2 separate regions of the Homo sapiens genome follow, and region 2 is linked to region 1. The links come from fine-mapping of genetic effects on gene expression. A gene starts in region 1. The other region holds a variant in brackets. All regions are shown on one strand. Distances are between the middles of the regions. Region 1 holds the start of PIEZO1 (piezo type mechanosensitive ion channel component 1 (Er blood group)). Region 2 holds the start of PIEZO1-AS1 (PIEZO1 antisense RNA 1).

The links. PIP is the estimated chance that this variant, and not a neighbour inherited with it, causes the effect.
Region 2: its variant is fine-mapped to the expression of PIEZO1 in pancreas (GTEx, PIP 0.92).

Annotation. Positions count from the first base shown.
Region 1 is chr16:88,781,146-88,790,672 of GRCh38, reverse strand. PIEZO1 (piezo type mechanosensitive ion channel component 1 (Er blood group)) reads left to right here and starts at 5,453. Exons shown (of 51, transcript NM_001142864.4): 1 at 5,453-5,772. The coding sequence starts at 5,709. RefSeq lists enhancers at 5,309-6,222, 8,705-8,784, 8,795-9,164, 9,185-9,324, 9,365-9,494 and 1 more and silencers at 4,955-5,284, 5,325-5,804, 6,305-6,624.
Region 2 is chr16:88,740,153-88,748,152 of GRCh38, reverse strand. It overlaps PIEZO1 (piezo type mechanosensitive ion channel component 1 (Er blood group)), which reads left to right. Exons shown (of 51, transcript NM_001142864.4): 3 at 5,731-5,853; 4 at 6,058-6,100; 5 at 6,537-6,675. HSALR1 (HSP90AB1 associated lncRNA 1) reads right to left here. Exons shown (of 3, transcript NR_103774.1): 3 at 6,728-8,000. It overlaps PIEZO1-AS1 (PIEZO1 antisense RNA 1), which reads right to left and starts at 5,386. Exons shown (of 3, transcript NR_120387.1): 1 at 4,663-5,386; 2 at 3,809-4,561; 3 at 2,405-3,064. RefSeq lists a silencer at 2,526-2,585 and an enhancer at 3,603-4,289. The variant C/G (reference allele first, on the strand shown) is at 3,408.

The DNA.
Region 1 (9,527 bases):
GGCTGGGATCACCCCTTAGAAGAACCCAGGACCCTCGGCAGGAACAGGTGGGAGTTTGTGCCCTGCTGATCAGTTCCTGTTCTTGGTTTCCAGGAAAGGGAGGCTGGGGAACCCAATGGGAATTCACTCAGGGAAATAAAACAAGAAGTTCCCGAATCTCACAGTCCCTGACAAGGAGTCAGGAAAGCAGTATGTGGAAGACACAGAGACTGTGGTTGCCTCTGGGGAGGGATCCTGGCTGCGAGGGAGGCATAGAGTCCACTGCTTGAAAATCGTTTCTTGTTTGTTTTTGTTTTTGAGATGGAGTTTCACTCTTGTTACCCAGGCTGGAGTGCAATGGCACGATCTCGACTCACTGCAACCTCCGCCTCCTGGGTTCAAGCAATTCTCCTGCCTCAGCCTCCCGAGTAGCTGGGATTACAGGCATGCGCCACTACGCCCAGCTAATTTTGTAGTTTTATTTGAGATGAGGTTTTGCCATGTTGGCCAGGCTGGTCTCGAACTCGCCACCTCAGGTGATCCTCCCACCTCGGCCTCCCAAAGTGCTGGGATTACAGGCACGAGCCACTGCACCCAGCCTGAAAATTGTTTTAACCACGTACATATTTCTTAAAATTGTCTATCATGGTCAAAGTACATAATATAAATGTACCTTTTAAATCATTTTTAAGTGTCCAATTTGGAGGCATTAAGCACATTTACAATGTTGTGTCAACACTACTATTTCCAGAACCTTTTTATCACCCCAAAGAGAAACTCTGCCACTGTTAAACAACAGCTGCCCACTTCCCCCTCTGGCCTGGTAACCACCCTCTGCTGTCTGTCTCCATAGACATTTCACGTACACAGAGCCACATGGTGTCTTCCTTCTGTGCCTGGCTCCCTTCCCTCCACGTCCCCCAGCCCCGTGCTGGCGCGGTGGCTCACACCTGTGATCCCAGCACCTTGGGAGGCCAAGGCAGGAGGATCGCTTGAGCCTGGGAGTTTGAGACCAGCGTGGGCAATATAGCAAGACCCCATCTCTATGGGAAAAAAAATTGGCTGGGTGTGGCAGTGCATGCCTGTAGTTCCAGTTACTTGGGAGGCTGAGGTGGGAGGCTTCCTTGAGCCTGAGGTCCAGGTTACAGGGAGCCATGATTGCACCACTGCAATCTAGCCTGGTAGCCTGGGTGACAGAGCGGGACCCTGTCTCACACACACACACACAAGTTCATCCCTGTTGTAGCGTACATCAGAGTTTCATTTCTTTTTATGGACAAATAATATCAGATTGTATGAACAGACCACATTTTGTTTCTACACTCCATTAACAGACTCTGGGGTTGCTGCCTCTTGAAATTATTATTTATTTTATTACTTTTTTTGAGACAGGGTCTTGCTCTTTCACCCAGGCAGGAGTGCAGTGGCATGATCTCAGCTCACTGCAATCTCCACCTCCTGGGATCAAGCGATTCTCCCGCCTCAGCCTCCCGAGTAGCTGGAACCACAGGCATGCGCTACCATGCCCGGCTAATTTTTGTATTTTTAGTAGAGACAGGGTTTCACCATGTTGGCCAGGCTGGTCTTGAACCCCTGACCTCAAGTGATCCACCCACCTCAGCCTCCCAAAGTGCTGGTGTTGCAGGTGTGAGCCACAGTGCCCGGCCAAAATTATTATTATTTTTGAGACAGGGTCTTGGCCTGTTGTCCAGGCCGGAGTGCAGTGGCGCCATCACTACTCACTGCAGCCTCCACCTCCTGGGCTCTAGAGATCCTCCCACCTCAGCCTCCTAAGTAGCCGGGACCACAGGCAGGCACCACCACATCTGGCTAATTTTTTTTTTTTTTGAGGCGGAGTCTCGCTCTGTCACCCAGGCTGGAGTGTAATGGCATGGTCTTGGCTCACTGCAACCTCTGCCTCCCGGGTTCAAGCGATTCTGCCTCAGCTTCCCGAGTAGCTGGGATTACAGGTGCCTGCTGCCACGCCTGGCTAATTTTTGTATTTTAGTAGAGACAGGGTTTCACCATGTTGGCCAGGCTGGTCTCGAACTCCTGACCCTGTGATCCACCCGCCTCAGCCTCCCAAAGTGCTGGGATTACAGGCATGAGGCACCATGCCTGCCTGGCATGCCTGGCTAATTTTTATTTTTTGTATAGATGGGGTCTTGCTGTGTTGTCCAGGCTGGTCTCCAACTCCTGGCCACAAGCCATTCTCCTGCCTTAGGCCCCCAAAGTGTTGGGATTACAGACGTGAGCCACCACACCCAGCCTGAAATTAATTTTTAAGTATAGACAAGTAATGGTGACTATGTTATCATTGGGGAAAAAGTTACAACCTGCATGATAAAGCTTAAAGTCCCTGTGACCCCTCTTGCCCTGGCTTTTCCTCTCTCCCAAGGGGACCTGACCATTGTTGCTCTCCCAAGACTAAGTCACTGGCCGGGCATGGTGGCTCACACCTGTAATCCCAGCAGTTTGGGAGGTCAAGGCAGGCGGATCATTTGAGGTCAGGAGTTCAAGACCTGGCCAACATTTTGAAATCCCATCTCTACTAAAAATACAAAAGTTGGCCAGGTGTGGTGGCACACGCCTGTGATCCCAGCTACTTGGGAGGTTGAGGCAGGAGAATCACTAGAACTCAGGAGGCGGAGGGTGCAGTGAGCCGAGATTGCTCCACTGCACTCCAGCCTGGACAACAGTGGCAGACTTTGTCTCAAGAAAATACAATAAAATAAAAAATAAATCACTGTTTTAAACAGTGACAAAAATAAAAAGCAACAGCAAGTTGAGAAAGGGCTCCCAGCTGTGGGTCAGTGGGACAGGAGTGACTTTGGACTTGGAATCTGGAAAGCTGGGTGCAAAGGCCGGTCTATTCCTTTGGCAAATGGTTATCCCGCTCTGGCCCTTAGCGTCCTCTTCTGCAACAGGGGTTGAGTTAGAACACGGTCCAAATTCCTGAACGGGCAGTGAACTGGGCACAGGTGGGCTCCCCTGCCCTTGCCCGCCCCACCTCTCCCTGGCTGGCAAGCAGAGATCTTTTTCAGAGTATTTGTCTCCATTTTGCTAATTTTATTTTGTGAATAAGTGAATTATGTATGAAGCAAAATATTAAAACAGCACCAAAGGGTATAGGTGAAGACCAGGTCTCCCTCCCACCCCAAGTGGGTGAGCGTGGCCCTGAGTGTAGCTGCTTGCTTTTCCCAATTGTTAGCACTGTAACTTAGCAATTGTTCCTCCTTGATAACAGAGCAATTGCGGGATTCTCTCTAACCGCTGCTACAGAGTGCCATTGTATCTTAGCTTCATGTTGATACAAAACACCTAGCCGGATTCTGTTTTTTACCTGCTGTGTAGCACTCCACTGTGAGACACGCTATCATTTATTTGACAAGCTTCTGTGGGCAGAGTTTTTCTGCTTTTTGCTGCTTGAACAATTCTAGGACACATACATCCTCTACCTTTGCAAGTCCATCTGCAGGGCAAGCTCCCAGACTTCCCCACCTCTGCAGCAACTTTTCAAAGCCTGACCAGAGGGTGAGACTTGCAGAGAAAGTAAATCAGCCTTTTTTTTTTTTCTTCTTTGAGATGGAGTCTCATTCTGTTGCCCAGGCTGGAGTGCAGTGGGGTGATCTCGGCTCACTGCAAGCTCCGCCTCCCGGGTTCACGCCATTCTCCTGCCTCAGCCTTCCGAGTAGCTGGGACTACAGGCGCCCGCCACCGCGCCCGGCTAATTTTTTGTATTTTTAGTAGAGATGGGGTTTCACCGTGTTAGCCAGGATGGTCTCCATCTGCTGACCTCGTGATCCACCCGCCTCGGCCTCCAAAAGTGCTGGGATTACAGGCGTGAGCCACCGCACCCGGCCTATATCAGCCTTTAAACACTAGACTTCCCATGAAAATCTCCATTTCTGGGTGGTTTTTTTTTTTTTAATGGAGTTTCGTTCTTGTCACTCAGGCTGGAGTGCAATGGCATGATCTCGGCTCACGGCAACCTCTGCCTCCCAGGTTCAAGCGATTTTCCTGCCTCGGCCTCCTGAGTAGTTGGGAATACAGGCGCCTGCCATCACGCCCGGCTAATTTTTGTATATTTATTTATTTATTTATTTATTTATTTATTTATTTATTGAGACGGAGTCTGGCTCTGTCGCCCAGGCTGGAGTGCAGTGGCGCTATCTCGGCTCACTGCAAGCTCCGCCTCCTGGGTTGATGCCATTCTCCTGCCTCAGCCTCCCGAGTAGTTGGGACTACAGGAGCCCGCCACCACGCCCGGCTAATTTTTTATGTTTTTAGTAGAGATGGGTTTTCACCGTGTTAGCCAGGATGGTCTCGATCTCCTGACCTGGTGATCCACCCGCCTCGGCCTCCCAAAGTGCTGGGATTACAGGCGTGAGCCACCGCGCCCGGCCTAATTTTTGTATTTTTAGTAGAGACGGGGTTTCACCATGTTGGCCAGGCTGGTCTCGAACTCCTGACGTCAAGTGATCCCCCGACCCCCTACCCCCTTGCCTCAGCCCCGCAAAGTGCTGGGATTACAGGCCTGAGCCACTGCCCCGCCATCTTTTTTTTTTTTTTTTTTTTTTGAGCTGGAGGGTGTGGGCTTGTGCTGGGCTCTCATGAGTTGCCAGTGCCTTGAGGCTCAGTGGCCACAGTCCCCCCAGCCCCACTCCCTGCCTTACGCAGCTGAGTTTGAGAGCCATGAACTGAGCCCAATTAAACGGTGTAGAGCCCTTTGCCCTCTTTCTGTGCCCATCTCAAGGGCAGACGAAGGCCAAACTGACGTGGCCTGGGTGAGGGTCCCGAACACCCTGGACTCAGACCCTACCTCTCCGTGGCAGGGCGCCGCGGCAGCAGGTGCACAGGCCGTGGCTCTCACTCTCACCGTCTCACGCCAGAGCGACCCGGGCAAAGCCGCGCGCGGTGGCCGGCGTGGCTGGGAGCAGCCCCCGAGCCCCCGTCAGACCAACGCGGATCGCGGCACTGCTGCGACCCGAGCATCCCGCGTGCTCCCTCCGGGACCACTAGGCCCGGCCGCCGCGGGAACTCCGAGCCTCCCCACGGTCCCCAGGGGGCGCTGCGTGCTCGCGCCTCGGGGAGCAAAGCGAAAGTCGCTCGGGCACGCGGGGTGCAGTTGCGCGTGGGGCGCTGCCTGGGGGAGCCAGAGGCCCCGGGACCCCTTATGTAGCGCCCGGGCCCCAGCCGCAGCCCACCCAGCGAGAAGCGCCCCTGCCCACCGCCGCGCACGCTCGGAGCCGCGGGGCCAAGACTGCGGGAGGGGAGGGGTCCGCTCCGGGCCAGCGCCAGTCGGGGGTCTCCAGGCCCCAACGCACCAGGGCGGGCCGGAGGCGGGACGGGCCGCGCGGGACAGCGGAGGGGGTGCCTGGGCGCGCCGGGCCGTCGGGGAAGCGCGGAGGCGGGCACGCCGGGGAGGGCGGGAGGGGGCCGAGCTTATAAAGGCCCGCGGGCGGAGGAGGGCGGGAGCCGCCGTCCGGCCCAGCTCGGCCCCAGTGAGCCGAGCGCTGCGCTCCGCCGAGGGGCAGGGCGGTCGCCTGAGCGAGCGCGGGCCCGGGACGTCGGCACCGGCGGGGCGGCCGAAGGAGAAGGAGGAAGAGGAGAAGGCGGCGCGCGGGTCCCCGCGGGTCAGCCATGGCGCGCCGGCCCCGGGGCCCCCGCACCGCCCCATAGCGCCGCGGCGTCCGCTCGGTCTGGGCCGGGCCCTGGGCCCTCCAGCCATGGAGCCGCACGTGCTCGGCGCGGTCCTGTACTGGCTGCTGCTGCCCTGCGCGCTGCTGGCTGGTGAGTGGGGGGCGGGCGCCTGGGGGCGACGGGAGGGGGCTGCGTCTCGGCTCCCCACGGCCTGGACACCGGACGACGCCGGCCGGGGCGAGGGCTGCGGGCGAGCGGGCGCGGAAATTCCCAGGGACGCGCGACCCGGGCGCCCGCATTCCTGAAGCATGAGCGCGCCAGGCGGCGGCGGGGCTCCTGTCCCAGGGCCGGGCTGGAAGGGCGGCGGCGGCTGGGGGAGACGGCACCGCGTGCCCACGGGGGCGGTCGAGCGAGCGCCGGGCATAGCGCGGCTGGCGTCTCCGCCGGGGCGCTGCGGAGAGGAGGCCGCCGGGCGAGGCGGTGTTTGCCCCGGTGGGAAGGGCCGCGGCGGTGGTGGGGGGAGCACGAATCTCTTTTTCTCTTTCGGGTTTAAAAAAAAAAGCGCAAAGTTGCATCAGGACTTCCTGACAATCTGGGAGAAGGCGGGCTTCCTGCCTGGAGCTGTTTAATTTGGAGCTTCCCGAGCCCAACGAACGTCCGTGCCCAGGGCCCAGCCCCGCTCACCGCTGCACCCCCCTCTGCCGGACTGAGGCGGTCCCACACTTTGGAAAAAAATAGTGTGGGTTCCTCCCTGGTCCTCCCTTGCCCTACTGGGCTCAGTTTCGCAGGGGCGGGGGCCGGCCTCTGCCCTGGTCTGGGGGAGGGGACACCCCCGGAGGCTGTGGCCTGGTGTCAGGGCGGGGCAGGGGTCCCCAGTCCTGGCATCTGTGTTCCCTGCTTGCCGGGCAGTGGTGCCCCTTTCGCGAAGCACACCCGGGTGGCTTGGTGCTGCACGGCCTGGCACCCCTACCCTTCCCCGACCCTGGCCTAGCCGGGACCCAGGGTCCGCGCCCTCCGCCCGGGGGCTCCCCACGTGTGATTGATCTGGGAAGCAGTCGGATGGAATTAACCCACGGACAAGTGGGACGGTTTGCATTGGGAGTCCGCCATGGACACGGCAGGTGGGGCCTTTTGATTGTAAAAGCCCTTTCGGAGCCCTTGCCTCGCTCCAGGTGGGAGCTCGCCCAGCGCTAGCTTTGGGGATCTAGAGCCGCCTGCCTGAGGCTCCCAGACAGACTGCGTTTTGATCGGTCGCACAGAAAGGTGGTGAAACTTGGGGAAGATTTTCTAGACAGGAATCAATGAAAACCATTGAGGCTGGAGAGGAGAGGTTTTGAGCAACTCTCTTCAGTGCGGTCAGCCCTGTGTGGACTGGGCAGCCTGGGACCTGCTCCCAGTGCAGGGTCAGATGGGCCGTAAACAGGGCCCGGCTGTGTTCCTTCCTGTGCCTTGAAAACAAGCAGGACAGCCTGGCACAGAGGCAGAGTCTAGAGCTGACAGGCCTTAGAGAGGGAAACAGGAAAGCTTCTGAAACGTCCCGTTCACACTGATCGTTCCATTTCCTCTTGTGTCTGAGTGGGAGCGGGTGTCCTCCCTGCAGGGAATGCCCCCCCTCTCAGATGGCAGCTGCTCCTTGGGCAGAGTTGGCAATGTTTTTCTTTAAATGACCAGATGGTAAATATTTTCATGTCACAAAATCTTCTTCTTCTGGTATTTTTCCAGCCATTAAATGTAAAAGCCCTCCTGAGTTCATGGGCTGTACCTAAACAGGTGTTGAGCCCGATTCTGTGGCACATGTGGTTTGCTGCCCCCTGGGCATTGGTCAGGGGGCCTGGGTTCTGCCTTCTCGATTGCTATCCGCGTGGGGGATCTGGGGGAGGGATCACTGTTCTTCTTGCTTTTGGCCTCCTTGGGGAGGATGGGGAGGTAGCCCAGGGGTGCTCACCCAGGCCCCGTGTCAGTCTTCTATGAAACTTTTAAAGAATAGTGATGACTGACTGTCTGTCTGTATGGTACTTTCCTTAAACCTAAAACTGGTCCCAAATAAAGTCTCTTAATTTGAAAGATGCTGAAGCCCGGGCCATACCCCACACTGATTCTGTGTCTGGGGATGGGGCGTGGGGCCTGGGCCTCACTCAGTGTTTTCTCTCAGTCACCTGGGGGAGATGGAAGTGGAGCCGGCCAAGAACCCTGCCTGCCTGCCTGCTGGCCGGGACTCCTGAGTCAGGCTCTCTGGCCCTGGGGTGTGGGCAGCTCCAGATGGACCCGCGATGTGCAGGTTCAGCTGGCCTGGCCGGAGGTGGGACACTGGCTTTGCTGTCTTTGGAGTGCCCCCTCCCTCTCTGGCGAGCTTTGGCTGGAAGCAGTTCTACCGTGTTTTGGAAATGAATGAGGCCTTCAGAAGGCATTAGTCAGTGTGTGCCTGCGCTGGCTCAGACAGTGCCTGGTGAGGGTTTGAGTCATCCTGGGGTGCCCCTGGCCCCCACGCCCTCCCTCTCCAGTGCAGGATCATTACCCAAAAATCTGGCAGGGAGCTGCCCCACCCACAGGGAGCAGGGGCCTCCTTCAGCAGTCTCACCTAATGTTGCTGGAGCCTTGGGGGATCAGGGCCCATCTCTTCTAGAGAGATGTCAGGGCAGGGCTGGGCGCGATGGCTCACACCTGTAATCCCAGAGCTTCGGGAGGCCAAGGTGGGAGGATTGCTTGAGCGTAGCCATTCGAGAGCAGCCTGGGCAACGTAGAGATCCCCATCTCTATGAAAAATATTTAAAAATTAGCTGGGCATGGTGGTAGTGCACCTGTAGTCCCAGCTACTCAGGAGGCCAAGGTGGGATGATTGTTTGAGTCCAGGAGTTGGAGGCTACAGTGAGCCATGATTGTATGACTGCACTCCAGCCTGGGTGACAGACCCTGTCTCAAAAAAGAAAAAGGAAAAAAAAGGGCAGGACATTTGTGATTCTGATAATATGGGACCGCACCTCCAGTTCTATCAGTGGGAAATCTAGACAGGGCTGCGGAAAGCCAGCTGGTGCGAGAGGAGCCACCGTGTCACTGACTGTGGGACACCCACGTGGGCTGACAATATGGCTTCTGCTTTTCAGGGTGCCTCGTGGCACAGCCTAGGGGCACACCCACGGCCGGCAAGCTGGGCGTCACCTCCTTCAGGCTGATTGTCACTGAGAAGTGTCACCATTTAGCATGAGGGATGCTGCCTCCTTTTTCAGAACATTGTCACCATCAGGGTCTCACCACTCCTGGGAGGCGGCCGAGAAGCTGGGGAACAGCAGGCACTCGGCTCACAGTTGCTCAGCAGTGCAGACCCTCTGAGCTGAGCATGGCAGAGTCACCCTTCGGAGGCCTGTGCCCGGGTCTCAGGACCTGCACAGAACCCTGGCCTGTCCCATCCGAGGGTGCTGGGAAGAGCATGGCCGTGGCAGAGTAGGGTGGGAGCTGCTTTCCTCTGTGGCTTGGGGGCCCCTTCTGAGCATCAGCTCCCTGGTGTGACAGAGGGGCGCACTCTGTCCCCATGCTGGGCCTGGAGGCTGGATGAGTCAGCAGGAGAGCCTGGGGCCTGCCTCACAGCACCAAGGGCTGCAGGTGTGAGTGTGCACATGTGTGCGTGTTTGGGGAAGGGGCCAGGGACTGCCCAGGAGCTGAGGATGGGTCACAGCGGGTGCTCGTCCCGCAGCGGGTCACTGGTGCCCAGGACACAGGGAGCTCCAGCCCCAGCTGCCAGGGTCCCACAGAGAGGAAGTTTCCTCTGGGGGTGGGTGGGGGCGCACAGTCTCTGATCCTGGCCCCAAGGCAGCTTCCTGGGCGGTGTCTCTCCTGTGCTGACTCGGCAGTGCATTTGCTTTCGGTGCTCAAAGATGAAGGGGAACCACCGTGGGCCTTGACGGCCTCAT
Region 2 (8,000 bases), 42 kb after region 1:
AGGGAGGGCAAGTGTAGGCAGCAAGAGACCTTCCCCAGCAGAGGGCAGAGAGGAGGCCAAGCAGGACCAGGGGGCGTGACTGTGGAGACAGGCTCTTGGGTGCCGCCCTTCTGGGAGGTGCTGGACGCATCAGGCTGGCAGCGTCGGGGCCTGTCCATGGCTACGAGGTGTCCACCGGGCTGCGTTTTTCCAGGGGACTCTGGGGAGGATCTGCTTCCTCTTCCAGCTGCTCCAGGTGCCTACCTTCCTGGGCTTGGGGCCCCTCCCTCCATCTCCAGAGCCGGTGGGGTGGGGTCAGGATCACACCCTGTCTCTCCTGCTCCCTCTCCCCTGCGGTAACCCTGTGGCTTCGTCCCATCTGCCTCCCCGGCTAATCCAGGCCGACTTCCCTGGTTTAAGGTCAGCTGTTGGGCAGCCCCCATTTCCTCTGCTGCCTGGACTCGCCTCTGCATGTGAGCTTCTGCGTTCACAGATTCTGGGGACTGGGGTGCAGGCATCATTGGGGTCCATCGTTCTGCCAGCTGCAGGTGGAAGGTCGCTCTCCGGCCTCGCGACATCTGGCTGGAAGCATCCCAGAGGCTCCTCCTAGCTCGTGGTGCTGTGGGGTGGGCAATGGTCTTTTTTATTTATTTTTTTTGAGATGGAGTCTCACTCTGTCACCCAGGCTGGAGTGCAATGGCACGATCTGGGCTCACTGCAACCTCCGCCTCGCGGGTTCAAGCGATTCTCCCGCCTCGGCCTCCCGAGTAGCTGGGATTACAGGCGCCCACCATCATGCCTGGCTAATTTTTGTGTTTTTGTAGAGACAGGGGTTTTACCATGTTGGCCAGGCTGGTCTTGAACTCCTGACCTCAGGTGATCTGCCCACCTCGGCCGAGACTACAGGCATGAGCTACCGTGCTTGGCTTTTTTTTTTTTTTTCGAGTGGGGGTCTTGCTTGGTTGCCCAGGCTGGAGAGCAGTGGCATGATCATGGCTCACTGCAGCCTCCACCTCCTGGGCTCAAGCGATCCTCCTGCCTTAGCCTACCAAAGTGCTGAGATTACAGGTGTGAGTCACTGTGCCCAGCGCAGGCACTGATCTTGGATCATGGGTAGAATTCAGGGGTGCAGAGAGGCATTTTGGGAGGGGCCCAGTGCGGCCGAGTGCTGGGAGTCGCTGGGGCCCGAGGCCCAAACCCCTCCAGGATGCATGGCTGGGGTGGGTGGGCACCCCCACTCCCGGTCCCTATCCTGGGCCTCCCCTTTGCTCTGTGGAGCCGGTTCTGTCTGTTCCCAGGCCCCTGGCGTTTCGCCGTTTGTTCCGTAAATATTTCATGCCCAGGGCGCAATTGGAAACACTTTCCTTTAATCAGCAGTGGGGGAAGGCAGGCGCCCAGCCAGGCCAGGGGAGGAGCTGGGGTGGGAAGATTTGGAGAGGACCCGGGAGGACTTCCCTGCCTGAGCCTCGTCAGAGGCCCTTCAGAGACGGAGATGCTGCCCAGTTTTCCGGGAGGGAGAGAGGAAAGTGTGAGGCTTGCCCGAGCCGAGTGCCCGGGGCTTTATGATTTGTGCAGCTGCTGGGCTTGGCGTGGCCCTGGTGGAAGCTCTGACGCCATCTGAGCCTTGGTCCCCTTGTAGGCGTCAGCCTGATCCTTGGGGGGCTGGAGGTTGAGCTCAGACTGAACAGGGAGGAGAGGGGTAGGGGCTGGGGCTGGGGCAGAGGGAACAGACCCTGGTGCTCCAGGCAGGGCTGCAGGCAGAGCCACAGGGGGTGGCTCCCAGAGACCTGCTTGTCATTTAGGGACTCAGAAGCCCCATCCTGCCTTAGGATAAAACCCACCTCCAAGACTGACCCTGCTGTCTGGAGAGAGATCACCCCCCACCTCTTACCATGCCCCGTGCAGGGAGGCCCTGCCACCCTCTCCAGCTTCACTGGTCCCCCGGCTCTGCCAGCCTTGTGTAGTCTCCATCCTCTGTCTCAAAAGGCCCCTCTCGTGGCCCTACCCCGCAGCTCAGCCCTAGCTGTCGCTGGGTGGGCCTCATGGCTCAGCCTCAAGGCACCCTGGGTCCCTTGGCTGGTCCCATGCACACCCCATGGATCAGGTTCCAGGGGGCTCCCATGCACACCCCACGGATCAGACTCAGGGCAACTCCACACTCCCCACAGAACAATCAGGCCCAGCCCTTGTCCGGCAGGTGTGGGGATGGTGGCTATGGACCACGCATCAGGATGCTGCCGTGGTGGGGCCCCTCAGCCTTTGCAGGCCGTGCCGGGGTCCAAGGGCTCCGGCTCTGGGGGAGGTCCATGCTCTGTCAACCATCCGGTCTGCAATACCCTGGGGCCTCCCCGCCCCTTCCTGTTTCCTCCTGAGAGCCCTGCAAGCTGGAGGGGGAGCCCCGGCCCCTTTTTTTTTTTTTTTTTTTGAGACGGAGTCTTGTTCTGTTGCCCAGGCTGGAGTGCAGTGGCGCGATCTCAACTCACTGCAACCTCCGCCTCCTGGGTTTAAGTGAAAGTGATTCTCCTGCCTCAGCCTCCTGAGTAGCTGAGATTACAGGTGCCCATCACCACGCCTGGCTAATTTTTGTATTTTCAGTAGAAACAGGGTTTCACCATGTTGGCCAGGCTGGTCTCAAACTCCTGACCTGAGGTGATCCACCCACCTCGGCCTCCCAAAGGTGTGAACCACCACGCCAGGCCCCCTGCACCTTCTTCTGGGTGGGCAAGAGCCATGCTGAGCCCCTCCCCTGCCATGGATAGGGGTGGCAAGAATAGTCCATTCCCCATGGGCTCCCTCCGGCAGGCAGCGGATGGGTTGGGGCCCACACAGTGGTTCAGGAAAGGCTGAAGGGCGGTTGCCGGCCAGAGCTGGGCGGGTCCCTGGCCTGAGCCTCCTCTCACTCCCTTTCCCAGGATGGAAAGGCCACTGTGAGCTGGGTGTGTCCTGCCAGGAGGGAGTTGGAGTCGGGGGCAGGAGACCCACTGGGTCTCCTGGGCTCCTGGAAGAGGCAGCAGTGGGTCCCTGCGGAGGTGGCCTGATCCCCGGCTCAGCCTGGTTTTCCCAGCTTTGCATTTGGGGGTGGGACCTGCAGGGGGAGAGTGACGGGGTGGGCGGGGACAGGGGCTGCAGGTGGAGGCACGAGAAAGCCACCCGACCCCTTGAGGTCATGCTGTTTGCGTCGGAGAAGAGGGCCGGTGTCAGGGTGCCCCCTCGGCCTCTGTGTGCACCTCCCCGCTCCCCGCCCCGTGCAGGTCAGCAGAGCCTCGATCCCTCTGCACGTTCCGGCCCCCTCCCATCTCCAGCAGCGTCTCTTCCCGGGGTGCCCCTCGGACTCTCAGCTCCCTAGTCTGATCCAGCCCAGGCAGGGAGCGGGCGTGCCACGTGGCCAGGAGTGGCCTCCAGGCCCAGCTGCGGCCCCTTCGACCCTG[C/G]GGAGGGATCATGGCCCAGCTGTTCTAACATGGCCAGACCAGGACACTCTGGCCGGCCCGAGAACTGAACCGGGAAGGAGGCAGGGAAAGGGGAGGGAGGAAGACAATGGGGAAGCAGTGACATCCGAGATGTAGCCAGAGACGGACATCCTGGACTGTCGTGCAGGGCAAGGCGGGTGGGCGGGAGCCAGGTGGCCTGAGAGCCCCTCCCTGCCCAGGGGTCTCTGGTCAGGCAGTTCCTTCCCGGGCTGCTGGATCGTGTGTGCAGGGAACCCGTCAGCCTGGCTGCCCAAGGGCCCAGATGTCCTCTCAGTGCCCGGGGGTCCTTGACAGCCCCAGCAGGAGCCCCACGTGCCTGTGGGGCAGGCCCCGCAGGTCCCTCTCTGTAGGACTCAGAATACCTTCTCCAATGCCACGTGCTCTCCCTGAGTGCCCAGTGCCACAGAGGGCCCCGCTGGCGAGGTTACTTCAACGTCAGGCTAGAGGGTGCAGCGAGCAGGACTCACAGCCCAGGTTCCCAGGCAGGTGTGGCAGGAGCCCATTCCCTGGGTCGGTGTTCTCATGTCACCCCACGGTGACCCTGCTGTACAGAGGCGGGGGCGCGGGGCCCCTGGCTGGTGCCCTCCTGCTGCCAGACTTGTGCTCTGCTGAAGAGGGGCTGGCGCGGCAGGTATGAGCCCGGCACGGAGGTCGTGAGCAGTGAGAAGCCTGGCACCTATGGGTTCGGGGCAGGGAGGCCCTGGAAGGTCCTGTCCTCCGGGAGCCCTGCACAGCACCCCCTGGTGGTGGCTCCTGTTCGTGTCGGGGCTGCAGCCTCCCTTCCTGGACGGTTTTCCATTCCTCCTTCCCACTCTCCCTGCTGCTCACCCCTCCCATCCTCCACAGGTCAGAGGTCATAGCTGCAGGGTCAGCAGGTCAGGGCCTGGGGCAACCCTAGGAAGGTGTGAGTGTGAGAAGCTGGTCCAAACCTGCCTCGGCTGCCTGGTGGTGCGGACAGGGAGTCCTGGGCATCCGTGAGGGCTGCTTCACGGTCAGGCTTAGGGATGTGCAGGGTGACTTGGACGTGGGTCATGAGTCTTTGCTCCAGAAAGAGGGGGCTGAGTGTCCAAGGCCAATCCCGAGTCTGTCACCTAACACCATTTGTGCTCAAAAAACTGAACAGAGTGGACACAGGCCCTGAGTTTGCGCCCCGAGGCCGAGAGAGGGCAGATGTGGTGGTGACATTCACCACCTTGGACCCAGACCCAGATGCTACCTGTCCCTGAGCTCCAGGAAGTTGTGAGAAGGGCCTGAGCTGTTCTGCACTTTCTCGTGGCCGGGCGTGGCTGGTGGTGCAGGAGTTGCTGCCCCAGGGTGAGGGCCCGGAAGCTCCTGCCAGCACGTGCCGGGGTGGAAAGGGAAGCTGTCCACAGCCCTGTCAGGACTCAGAACCCGGTGGGTCAAGGACTTTGGTCCGGACCCCTGCTGAAGGGTGAGCTGTCCACATGTGCGCCGAGAGCAGAGGTGAAGCCAGGGCTCCTGAGTGCCCCCAGCCACAGGGTGCGCCCGCCCAGCCCCTGCCCTGCAGCCGAAGGCCTCCCTGCTGGGGGGCTGAGTCCAGTGGGGCCACAGGCAGCTGGGAGCAGGACAAGGCTGCCAGGCAACCAGATGGTGCTGCCGCTTCCTGCCAGGTGTGGGTGCACAGAGAGAGAGAGGATGCCGGTCTGGGGCCTGACCTGGTGCACAGCAGGTGCCTGAAATGCCAGGGTGGCCATGGGGACTGGGTACCATGCATAGGCCATGCATCGGGATGCAACTTCTCCTTGCAGCCCCTCAGCCCCAGGGAGGCAGCTGCCTGCCCCACTTTTCTCCAGAGCCATCATGGCCCTGCTCCCACCCCAGCCACGGCTGCTCAGGGGCGCTCCGCATGCTCTGGTCTCCATCCACCTGCAGCCCCCACTGGGGTGAGGTGGAGCTTCTTGCCTCTCCTTGTGTCTATTTCCTCTGCTTCCACAACTGAACGGTGACAGGTATTTGCTGGATGAGGGAGCACACCCCAGGTGGTTTCCTCTGAGCCTGGGAGGCCTTTTCCTGCCTGTGGGCCCCAGGCCCATCCTGCTGCCACCCCCAGGAGGATGCCCGGCTCCTTGTGACAAGAGTGACCCTCGGGAGGCGTGGGGAGTGGGGCTGGCCGGCCTGCCTGATGGGGTCCTGAGTCCATGGCGGGTTTGCATCTCAGGCCTCTGGGCTCTGGCCGGGCTGGGGGCTATTGTCCGGCTGAGCGGCCTGGGCTGCGGCCCCTCCCCGTCCCCGGGACCAGCCTCACCCACTCGCTCTGCCGCAGGTCACACAGGCCGCCTCCTGCGGGCATTGCTGGGCCTCAGCCTGCTCTTCCTGGTGGCCCATCTCGCCCTCCAGATCTGCCTGCATATTGTGCCCCGCCTGGACCAGCTCCTGGGACCCAGCTGTGAGTCGCTGAGGGGGCGGGGTAGGGATAGCCATCCTGGGGGTCAGGGAGAGGGCCCTGCAGTGACCCCGAGTCTCCTGGGGGGGTTGACTCAGCCTGATTTATGTCTGGCCTGGATGGTCCAGGTGAAACGCTCCAGGGATGACCAGGCCACGGTGCTGGCTGGGCAGAGCCTGACCTGGGTTCCCCCGTCTTTCTCTGCAGGCAGCCGCTGGGAGACCCTCTCGCGACACATAGGGGTCACAAGGTAAGACCATTCCTCCCACCCCCAACCAGCAAGCCTCCCTTGGGGATTTCAGGCCCCAGGAAGTGGGGGGACCCAGGAGGGACAGAGGGGGACCTGGAGACTCATCCACACTCCCACCCACACCTGGAGACCCATCCACGCTCCCACCCACACCTGGAGACCCATCCACACTCTCACCCGCACCTGGAGACCCATCCACACTCCCACCCGCACCTGGAGACCCATCCACACTCCCACCCGCACCTGCAGACCCATCCACACTCTCACCCGCACCTGGAGACCCATCCACACTCCCACCCGCACCTGGAGACCCATCCACACTCCCACCCGCACCTGGAGACCCATCCACACTCCCACCCGCACCTGGAGACCCATCCACACTCACACCCACACCTGTCCTCTTGGTCTGACCGCGGCTGCTCCCTGCTCTCCGCAGGCTGGACCTGAAGGACATCCCCAACGCCATCCGGCTGGTGGCCCCTGACCTGGGCATCTTGGTGGTCTCCTCTGTCTGCCTCGGCATCTGCGGGCGCCTTGCAAGGAACACCCGGCAGAGCCCACATCCACGGGAGCTGGTGAGGGCAGCTGCGTCACCCGTGTGTCAGGGAGGTCATTCGAGAGCTGTGGTCTCAGCCATTTTGAGGGTTATTTTAATCTTTTTAAAACAGATGTAGACGTTTTGGTTGTAAGTTGGTGTTAAAGAGAGGAGGAAGTTCCAAATCCCACCCCGGGGCCCAGCCTGCAGTTCCATCCGTTCAGACCTGTTTCTACTCGGGCTCTGCCTCTAGTCAGAAACCTCCACGCCCCGACATGGCATCTGTGCCCTTAGGAACTCTTCACAGGGGAATTATTTGGGGCCACGCGGTGGTGGAAACCTGCAGTGCTGGGCAGTGGGTCTGGCTGGAGAGCCACTGCAGAAGGGCTGAGAAGGGGCGGCCCCAGCAGGCCCCATGCACTTACAGGCAAACAGGCTGTCGGCCCAGAGCCCCAGCAGGGGCCTGGACCCCAGGAGCGACGGGCCTGAAGCAGGGCCTCTGTCCTCGGAGTGGGAGGCAGAGTGAACTTTAGCTGCTACAAGACTTGGAGGTCCGGCCCCGGGAATCTCTGAGCTATGGCCCCCTCACACGGACAGGGCATGAGCTGGGGCCTGCGACACCCAACGTTGACTGCTCAGACCCTCTCGTCCCTGCCTGGGCCCACACTTGCCATCCCCAGGCTCAGCCAGGATTTATGGCCACCTGGGTGTCCTGGCCCACGAACTCCCTGCCCCGGGCACCCAGCCTCCTCCCACCTCACCCTCCCAGTGCCCACTCGTCAGATAGCTGATGCTCGCCACGCACATGGGCCTCAACTTCTAGAGGAGTCCCGAGAGGGAAAGGGGTTCCCCAAGCCACACGGTAGGTCGAGTACACCTGCTCAGCCTGCAGAGGCGGCCTGCCCTCCTGCCTGTCCTGTCGCCACCCCATGGGGCAAGGCTGGTGCCCGCATTTCAGAAGTGGGAACGGGGACCTGGAGGTCAAGTGGCTTTTCCGGGCATTTGAGGGGGTCCAGCGCTCATGAGGACTGTGCTGCTGCCTGTCCTCCAAGAGACCCGCCCCTCCCTCGTCAGCCCCTCCATGCTGATGGGGGCATGGGGCATGAGCTTCCTAGAGTTTGGCTGCTGGGAAGGGGCTGGGTGGCTGGACTCTGGTCATCTTCATCTTGGTGTGATGGGAGCCTGAGTGTGCAGCTGCGCCCTGGGCGGCCAGCGTGGACAGACTTCAGAGTGAGCTGGGGGCACCAGGCACCTGCAGGATACCGTTCCGAAAGATCTAGAAGCCCCATGACCCGGCCTGGCAGGGCCCCCGGGCGACCCTCACTCCCACATATGGGCAACACACACACGTGTTTGCAGGCATGC